Linked DNA regions of Homo sapiens: region 2 is linked to region 1. Evidence: fine-mapped expression QTL. Tissue or cell type: whole blood. Region 1 holds a variant in brackets; the other region holds the start of a gene. All regions are shown on one strand. Distances are from middle to middle.

Region 1 (4,146 bases):
TCAGTTAATTGATCCAAGAGTGGACTTTCCATCTAAGCTGGACAATCAGTGTCTTTCTGGAAATTTCTTCGAAATGGCTGCTGTCTTGAACCAAGGAGTTTGGAAACTTGAAAGATGTTGTTAGTGACTGTTTTAAGCATCACAGACATAGAAAGAAAGCCAATCTGCAGAAAGATATAGGATTAAAACAGCTGTGCAGAGGAGCAATTGTGGAAGAGAGGAGAGGGAGGGAAAGAGTAAGAATGAATGGACTTCCTGGATTTCCTTATAATGTTCCAGTCTGCAACTCTAATCCATTCTGGAGGCCCAGCATAATAAAATAATAATGATAGCCAATGTTTATTGAACACTTAATGTGTGCTTGGCATAATTCTCACAATGATCCTATGGATGTTACTGTTCTAATCCCCATTATGGCAATGGAATAAAGGCAAACTTTTCTTAAAATCCTTACTAATTTGCTTTCACAGAAACTGCCAGATCTCCCCTCTCTCCCCAGTTCCCTTTCCTGCCTCCTCTTTTCTTCACTGCCTCCCCTCCCCACAAGATCTTCCCCTTTAGGTCAATCTTTCCTTTCCATATGCAGTGCTTTCTCTGGGCTTCTTTATTTGTATAACCATTATATCAGTAAGGAATTGCATTTGACAAATGGACCACAGGGACTTAAAAACCTGGGATGTTGGTTCAGCAGCTCAAGGACGTCAGGTCAAAGATTACTGTGGATTTCTGGTTTCCCCTTGTGGCCCCAGCAGCTGCTTTGCCAATCCATCTAATCTGCATTCCAGCCAGAAGACCCTGAGGGCACTGGGCTCCCTGGAGAAAAATTCATTGCATGTTTTACGGCAGGAAATATCAAGATGAGTCTGGAAATATCTTCTTATTGCCAGAAAACAAACATACTTTCAAAGACCCTTGGAAGACAAGCTAAGTTATGTCTAGTCATAAATTTTATCTAGAAATAAGTTTTGTAACCATTATAGTATTTTGTGTATATTTTTCTGCTTTTTAAGGTAAGTAAAGAGACTGATTCATTAGACTCAAAATATTAGTAAAAATTTATAAGATGTTGATAACTAAGTTTGAAATAATGTTCAAATGTTTAAATTGTTAAATCTTTAAATTTATAATTTATTAAATTTGTAAGGTTAAACTTTTTAAGTTCAGTATGTTTTCAGTGTTTATTAAGATTTTGCCTATAGAAATGTGAGTCTGCTTTGTTGTTTTTTTCCTTGAGAAATCAATTAAAATTAGATTGTAGTTTGAAATGTCTAAAACTTAATTCTGAAAGTTTGATAAATATTTGGGAGTACCTTATCAAATTTACAAGCCAGTTGGGCATTCATCAAAACCAAATAAAAGTAGATAATAAAATATTAACAAAACTGATTTATAAATTAACACAAGTTTAAAGTCTTCAAAATTAAGTTTTAAAACATATAATTTAAATATATAAAATATAAGTTGAAATTAAAGGGAGTATTTATTTCAATGCATAAAGGCTCTCTTCAGACATAAAGAAAACTCAGATGACATTTTGGAGGTAGGTGGTATCAGTCAGTGTCGGCTAAGTTATGCTGTGGTAACAAGCAACTCCAAAACCCTCAGTGGCTTACAATGACTAAAGTTCAGTTCTTGCTCACATTGTGGGCTACCGGTAGCTTTGCTCTAAGTTTTCCATCCTGGGACCAGCAGTCTGTATTTGGGATATTGCTGGTTTCATGGAAGAGAGAACGAACATAGTAGAACCATATGATGAATCAGAGCTTCTGCTTCGAAGTGGCACACATCACTTCTGTTATCATTGCATTGGTCAAAGCAAGTCTCATGGCCACTCTTGAGGTCAAGGAGATGAGAATATGTAATCCTCCCACAAGAAGGGACACCTCAAACCACATCTCTAAGGCTGATGCAATGAA[G/A]TGGGGAAGTATTATCTTCCCCAGGGTGGGGCAGCAAATATTTTGAGTAATAAAATCTACTGTAATGGGGAATAGGAGGTTTTTAAAAAATTCTTACAACTTAGTTTTTTCCCTGTCACATAGGCTGTCAGTATATCCTAACTTACAGAAGTGATTGTGATTGTGTCTGGGTGTTGGAATTATGGTGATTTTAATCTTCTTCTTTGAAAGTTTTTGATGATGAGTATATATTTATTTTGTAGACAAATTAACAATTTTTAATTAAAAATTTAAATTATACCAGGCTTGGTATCGCATGCCTGTAATCCTATCACTTTGGGAGGTCAAGGTGGGAAGATCACTTGAGCTTAGGAGTTTGAGGCCAGCCTGGGCAACATAGTGAGACCCTGTCTCCATTTTTATATAAACAAATAAGCAAAAATTTTGATGAAAAATTTTTTTGTAACCAAATTAAAATTTATGAATTTCATTTGTACAAAAAAGGCAGTGGATAACTAACTTGTTTTTAATATTGGAATGGTAGTATGTGCAGAACAGTGTTTTAGAAAAATACATCTCACAACATTGAAGAAGAAAATGTATGTTGGAGATTTTGTGTTTTAGATATATCTCAACCTGTCAGCTTTGAAAGAATGTGGCTATGAAATGGAGTGTGTTTGTTAAAGAAATAAGTAAATCAGTAAGTGAATGTTGGTTAGTTGGGTGGAGAAAGGCTTAGAAGCATCTAGCACTAAAAGATATATTCTTTTGTGGTTATCTGGCTGATGTCATGAAATTCTGACTTATACCACCAGGGAAGCTTACATTTCTCTTTGGCAGGGAACTTCAAATTTAGTACAGTTTGGACCTCACTGCATAGTCATAGTAAAAACTTTTGTACTTAATTGACTCTTCGTTTGCTTCTGGTTTTATAGTGGCCTTCCTGATGAACCAGCTTTTTATAATCCAAATTGGATCTGTGCCTACTTAATTGTTTCTGTCCCAATTCTACTTGGTGGTCAAGACTGAATCAGATTTTCGGTTCCTCCTTCTCCTCTCGTTTTGACTTTCCAGTGTATTCAACTGAATTTTCATCATAATGACTCCAAAGTACTCTTCTCTTCCTTTGTCTTGTGGTCACAAGAAAAATCACAAGATCACATTGATGGATGACTCATGAGCTCCTCATCTTTCTGATAGAGTCTCTGAACTGAACCAGCGTGAGTCTAGGTTTGCAGGAAGGCTTTTGATTCAGCCTTGTGATTCTCATGAATAGATGGCAATAGAATTAATTTCTCTCTCGATCTTGCTTTTCTTTTTCAACTAATAACTTTATTTACATCTATTTTCCTCCCTACCCAACCCACTGCATGTCCTTTTCTTGACCCAGGTGATGACGTTTCTTAAACCAGTTTGCTCTTCTCCGTATCCAAAGCTGCTCTCGTAGGTCACCATTATAACTCCACAGTTAATGCAGCAACTGCCCAGCTGAGTCTTCCCATCATCGGACGTCCCCAATCCATTCCAGCCATGGTGAGCTTTCAATAATGCAAATCAAGTCTTCAAGGTCATTCCTGTGTAGAAAGCCCATTGCCTTCTTCATATACTTACGGCTTTCAAGTTCCTTCATATCTAGTCTCTGTTCCCCTTTCTAGCCTACCTCCCAGTACTCTCACTCCAATATAGCTCATGTCAAACAGATACTACTTTTGGTTTCCTGAAATGCCTTTCCTTGACAGTGAACCTTGCTTCTGCCTGAAACACTCTCTCTTTCCCTATTTCTATCAAGCTCCCTGATTTTCAAGGTTCATTTCGGGCAGCATGCCCTCTAGGAAGCATTTCTTGGCAGCCTGATCCTCTGCCCAGCCTCTCATCTGATTTAGGCCATAGATTGAGCATAACATGTTTCACAGTATTGTAATTGTTCGTTTATGTGGTGGTATCTCCTCACATTGAGGGTAGAGATTGTGGTTTTGGTTTTTGTGTTTGTTTTATCATTGTATACCTAGCACCTAGCATAAGGTTGTGATGTACAATTGTTTGCTATATGAATGAATGAATGGATGGATGCCTTCACAAGAAAAATCGCTCACTAGACCATGTTGGTCAGTAGCAGGTACTGGGAGGCACAGAGTCAAGAGTCTAGCACGTGACACATGACAACTGTCTCACTGTGCCATCAGGAATGGAGTGGACCCCTATTGGGATGTCCATCCCCCTACCTTTTTTGGTTGGAACCATCCCTCTTCTC
Region 2 (4,279 bases), 91 kb after region 1:
CAATTTGTCTTCAAACTGGATCTATACTGTATTTTTCACATGTACCAGGGGTCCTTACACAATAATGAAATTAACATGAGATGTGTTGGAAAGCAGAACATTTACTGTGCTCCTCTTAGTGCCTATATCCCTAAACCATAAACACTGTTGCCTACTGCATTTCAAAAGGGAAATTGGATTTTTTAATTTTCAAGAGAATTGGAAACTTTACATTTCCACTAATGAGGGCAAAGGGAAATAAGGCAATATGTTTTAAAGTTCCATTCAGGACAAAACATCTTCAGAAAAGAGATATGTATTTAAAGTATGGGAACTACATTCAAAACAAAATTCTTAGTACTCTTGATTCTTCCTTTGACTATGATCAGGTTCATGATGTAACTCAAGCTAAACTTGCGGTATTTCAATCTATGGTTCGTCTGATTCATTTGCATCTCTCTCAAGCGGCAGAGATGGGATTAGTTAGTAATGAACATAGAGAGTGTTTTGAAAAGGAAATGAGACACTACCATTTTCTATTAATGTTATTACGTTTAAGTGCCAGGATCAAAGCACAACCCTCTACTGTTAGAGGTGAAATTACTGCTACCAATGAGCGCAGCTACCATGGTATGTAAATTGAATATATACTAATTTAAGACCAACAATGAAGCTCAGGGGAAGAAGGAGATAATCAAATTATCCTGTTAAGCCTGATAATTGCAGACTAGATAATGCAATAAAAGAATCTATCAGAAACTTAACTTAATCAGATCATCTACAGCAACTAAATTACCCAGATAATTTAGGTTGTATAGGCCGAGTTCAAATCTCCATAAAATGGTCAGGTATGTCTGAGACATACCTAAGGCACACCATAAAGCTGTATGTTCAAAAGTCAAGAACGTATATAACACAAAAAAATTATACCTATAAATTTGAACTTGCCAAATATCATCACAATAAGACTTTTGAAGTGTTTAAAAGCTTCCTTTTTTACCTTCCTAGAAGTATGGGGCACGGACTACAGCATTTCAAATACTTCAACACAAACTAAAAGTTAGCAGTACTCTAACCCCTGAAACCACAGTTCTGGTTGTCTGGTCTGGAATGAAAATGAGTTATTTGGCGAAATGCAGTTTAAATGGGTGATTCCAGCAGCGAGAGGCAGGGAAGTTGAGAACGCCCTCATAGGCAGTCTTTGCTCTGGCTACAAGAGGAAAAACAACTTTTACTTCAAGTTGTGCGTCTCTTCCAGTTTTACTTCCACAGTCAGTAATAAATCAACCCAGGCACCAAGTTCAAACAGATGAAGCTCACGCCTGACCAGTTAGGGCCAGTTATAGCCCTAAGATCTTTCTTTGCTTAAATCATGTCTTCCTTTTGGTCTTTACAAAAAATTCTGTTTAACTGCTTTCTACCCAATGGCTATTTCACCCCATTTCACCAAGGGGTTTGAGGATTGTCCAAGTATCTTTTCACATTATTTGTTGAATTTTTACCGTTTCATAGAAAAAGATCAATTTCTTTCTTTTTTCTTTTTAAATTATAGATTCAGAGGGTACATGTGCAAGTTTGTTACATGGGTGCATTGCATAAGGTGGGATTTGAGCTTCTAGTGAACACATCACCCAGTGAACGTAGTACCCAATTGGTAGTTTTCCCAACCTTCCCCCCTACTTTTGGAGTCCCCAGTGTCTACTGTTTCCATCTTTATGTCCATATCTATCCACTGCTTAGCTCCCGCTTGTGAGAACATGGTATTTGCTTTTCTGTTCCTGCCTTAATCCACTTAGGAAAATGGCCTCCAGCTGCATCCATCTTGCTGCAAAGAACTGATTTCATTGAAAAAGACCAGTTTCTCAGCCCTTCCTATTTACCTCAGAAATTAAGACATCAAGCCAATCCTTGAAATAAACTTTCTTTTTGTCGTTCAAGCAAAGTCAGAGCAGAAAATGCAGGTGGCAGGGCAAGTAGAGTAATTCTGCGTCTTTCTCAGGGATGTCAAGAGCAGACTCTGGGCATACATCGCTCCGCCTGAGGAAGGATTTAGGGAGCAAGGCTGCCTGGAGGGAACCGGCACAGGGTGCAGGACCCGGAATTCACCCTACACCAGAGCCTAACATGTTAAGAGGTCTAGGACCGTGTAGCAAGTTTTGAAGGCAACCCCACCCCACATCTTTGCATAGTCTGAAACAATTTTGCATCCCCCAACTATTTAGGCAATTGTTCTCATCATTGGATAATCGAATTTCGGAAAATTCTAGACTAATCACTACCTCCAATCACAATATGCTTTGATTGGGCCCGGGAGGGACAGAGAGGGGCTGAGCAAGGCCACAGGAGCACAGGGCCGAGCAAGTCCCTCCACTCACTCAGCAGATGGGGCACCCGGTGCCCGGCGCTCCCAGGCCCGACCCGAACCCACTTACCCTGGGGGGTGGCCTGGGCGCCTGCCGCTAGCCACCGCTGCAGGACCAGGTGCAGCAGGAGGACGGCGGCTCCGCGCGGGGCCAGCATGTTGGCTCTTCCTGCTCCCCGCGAGGCCGGGGGCGACGGCGGCGTTGGCCCCGCCTGGGGGTCCCCGGGCCGTGCGTTGAACCTCGGTCGGCGCCCGGGCCGGCGCCGCAGGTGACCCGTGCTCGGCGTCCGGGCTGCCGTCGGGGGCGCGCTCGCGTCCCCGCCGTGCGGTGCTGGGGAGCTGGCTGCTGGGCTCCGCGGCAGCGGCCGGGCGCTTTATGGTGCGGCCGGGCGGGGGAGGGCCGGGGCGGGGGCGGCCCCCTTGGCGGGATCCCCTGTCCTGGGAAGAGCTGGGCAGCTGGAGCAGCGAGCCGGGGCCGCAGGGAGAAAGGCGCGGGTGTGAGGATGGGAAGGAGCCTGGACGGACCAGGTCCTGGGGTGGGTGTAGACACGGCCCCGACGCGCGAGGGTAGGGGCGAAGATGGGCAGTCGGGGCTGGAGAGAAAGGGGTGCTGAGCAGAGACCACAGGGGAGAAAGGAGCGGGAGGAAAGGGGCGAAAGGGAGGAAGAAAGTGACACTGACCCACTAGCTTTGGGCACCTTCAGTCCCCTACTCCTTGCGCTCCTTTTGTTTTCTAAAAAGAAGAATATCCTTTGGATCGGCTTTGAATGCCCACCTTGGGTTCCCTTGCGAATGAATCCTGAAGTTCTCCAGGAACGCTCTGCCTCCTAAAGTGGCCCAGAGAGCAGCGAGTTTCTTTTATTTCTTCAAGCTTTTCTTGAATACTTGAAAGGCTGAATTTTTTTCTCTATCATTTTGAGACACAGTGAAAGTTTGAAAGTTGTTGTGTTTTTAATGGAGATAAAACACATCTCAAGGAATCCATCCAGACAGAGCCATTTCTAGGCTGGTGAATCTGTGCTTTATGGATAATTCGTTTTCAGTATGGTTTCCAAACGCCCTGCTTGCCCACCTCTATTCCTCTGTCACCAAAGATTCCGTGTGACAGTTTAAAGGTACGGGAGTAGAACTTGAAAGAGATCGGAGGAACGCAAGTAATTCGTCCTTTTCCTGGGCAAAGCTCCCGGAATGATATGGATTAACTAGAGGAAAAAATATTTGATAAACAGTGGCAAAAATTTCTCCTCTGTAACAATCTCGACTAATGGAGAACATCCAGCAAAGTATTGCTATCTCTTTTATGTCTCAAATAATTCCATTTCAAAGTTTAATAAGCCACAAACTGGGAGATTAATGCACCATTTTATCCCCAAACTGTGCTAAAATAACCTGACACCAATTATCACTCAATTTACAGCTAGCGACTTGGAGATTTGTGAGCTATCTGCAGAGCTCTCTAATATGTAAGGTCCAATACAGGTCTATCCAGGGTTCCTTTAATGCCACATTACACTACAGTCACTCTTTGGAATGGGGCATATGTCTACACATGAGAGAACACTGAGAGACACAGAGGATGTGCATAAATATCGACTAATGAGATAAACTAGATTTGGGAACATTCAAATCTCCAGACCATGTTCCCAGGAGTGGCCTGGGTTTGAGAGGAATCTAGGCTCCCAAGCTACGCTTCAAGCAGAACAGCCTTGCCTTTCTATGTTTTTACAGTAGACTTCAGAGATTAAGATTTTCTGTGAAGACAATATTTGGATGCTCAAAATTTTGAAAGCCACTATTCAGTGGTTCTCAGCTGATTGGGTATACCAGAATCTCCTGGGGAATTTAAAAAACAGTGATTAGGTGCCTACAGGGAACAAATGAAACCAAACATCAAAAGCAGCAATATGCTATATCACACCATAGACTACTCTGATACAT

What was found. PIP is the estimated chance that this variant, and not a neighbour inherited with it, causes the effect. A credible set is the group of variants that fine-mapping cannot tell apart.
Region 2: it holds the start of THBS4, and the variant in region 1 is the best candidate, but not a certain one, in a credible set for the expression of THBS4 in whole blood (TOPMed, PIP 0.72).

Annotation. Positions count from the first base shown.
Region 1 is chr5:80,124,941-80,129,086 of GRCh38, reverse strand. It overlaps a transcript of SERINC5 not described here. Among named protein-coding and RNA genes, the nearest start is that of THBS4-AS1, 43 kb to the right of the region's middle. The variant G/A (reference allele first, on the strand shown) is at 1,917.
Region 2 is chr5:80,033,758-80,038,036 of GRCh38, reverse strand. THBS4 (thrombospondin 4) reads right to left here and starts at 2,689. Exons shown (of 22, transcript NM_003248.6): 1 at 2,412-2,689. The coding sequence starts at 2,499.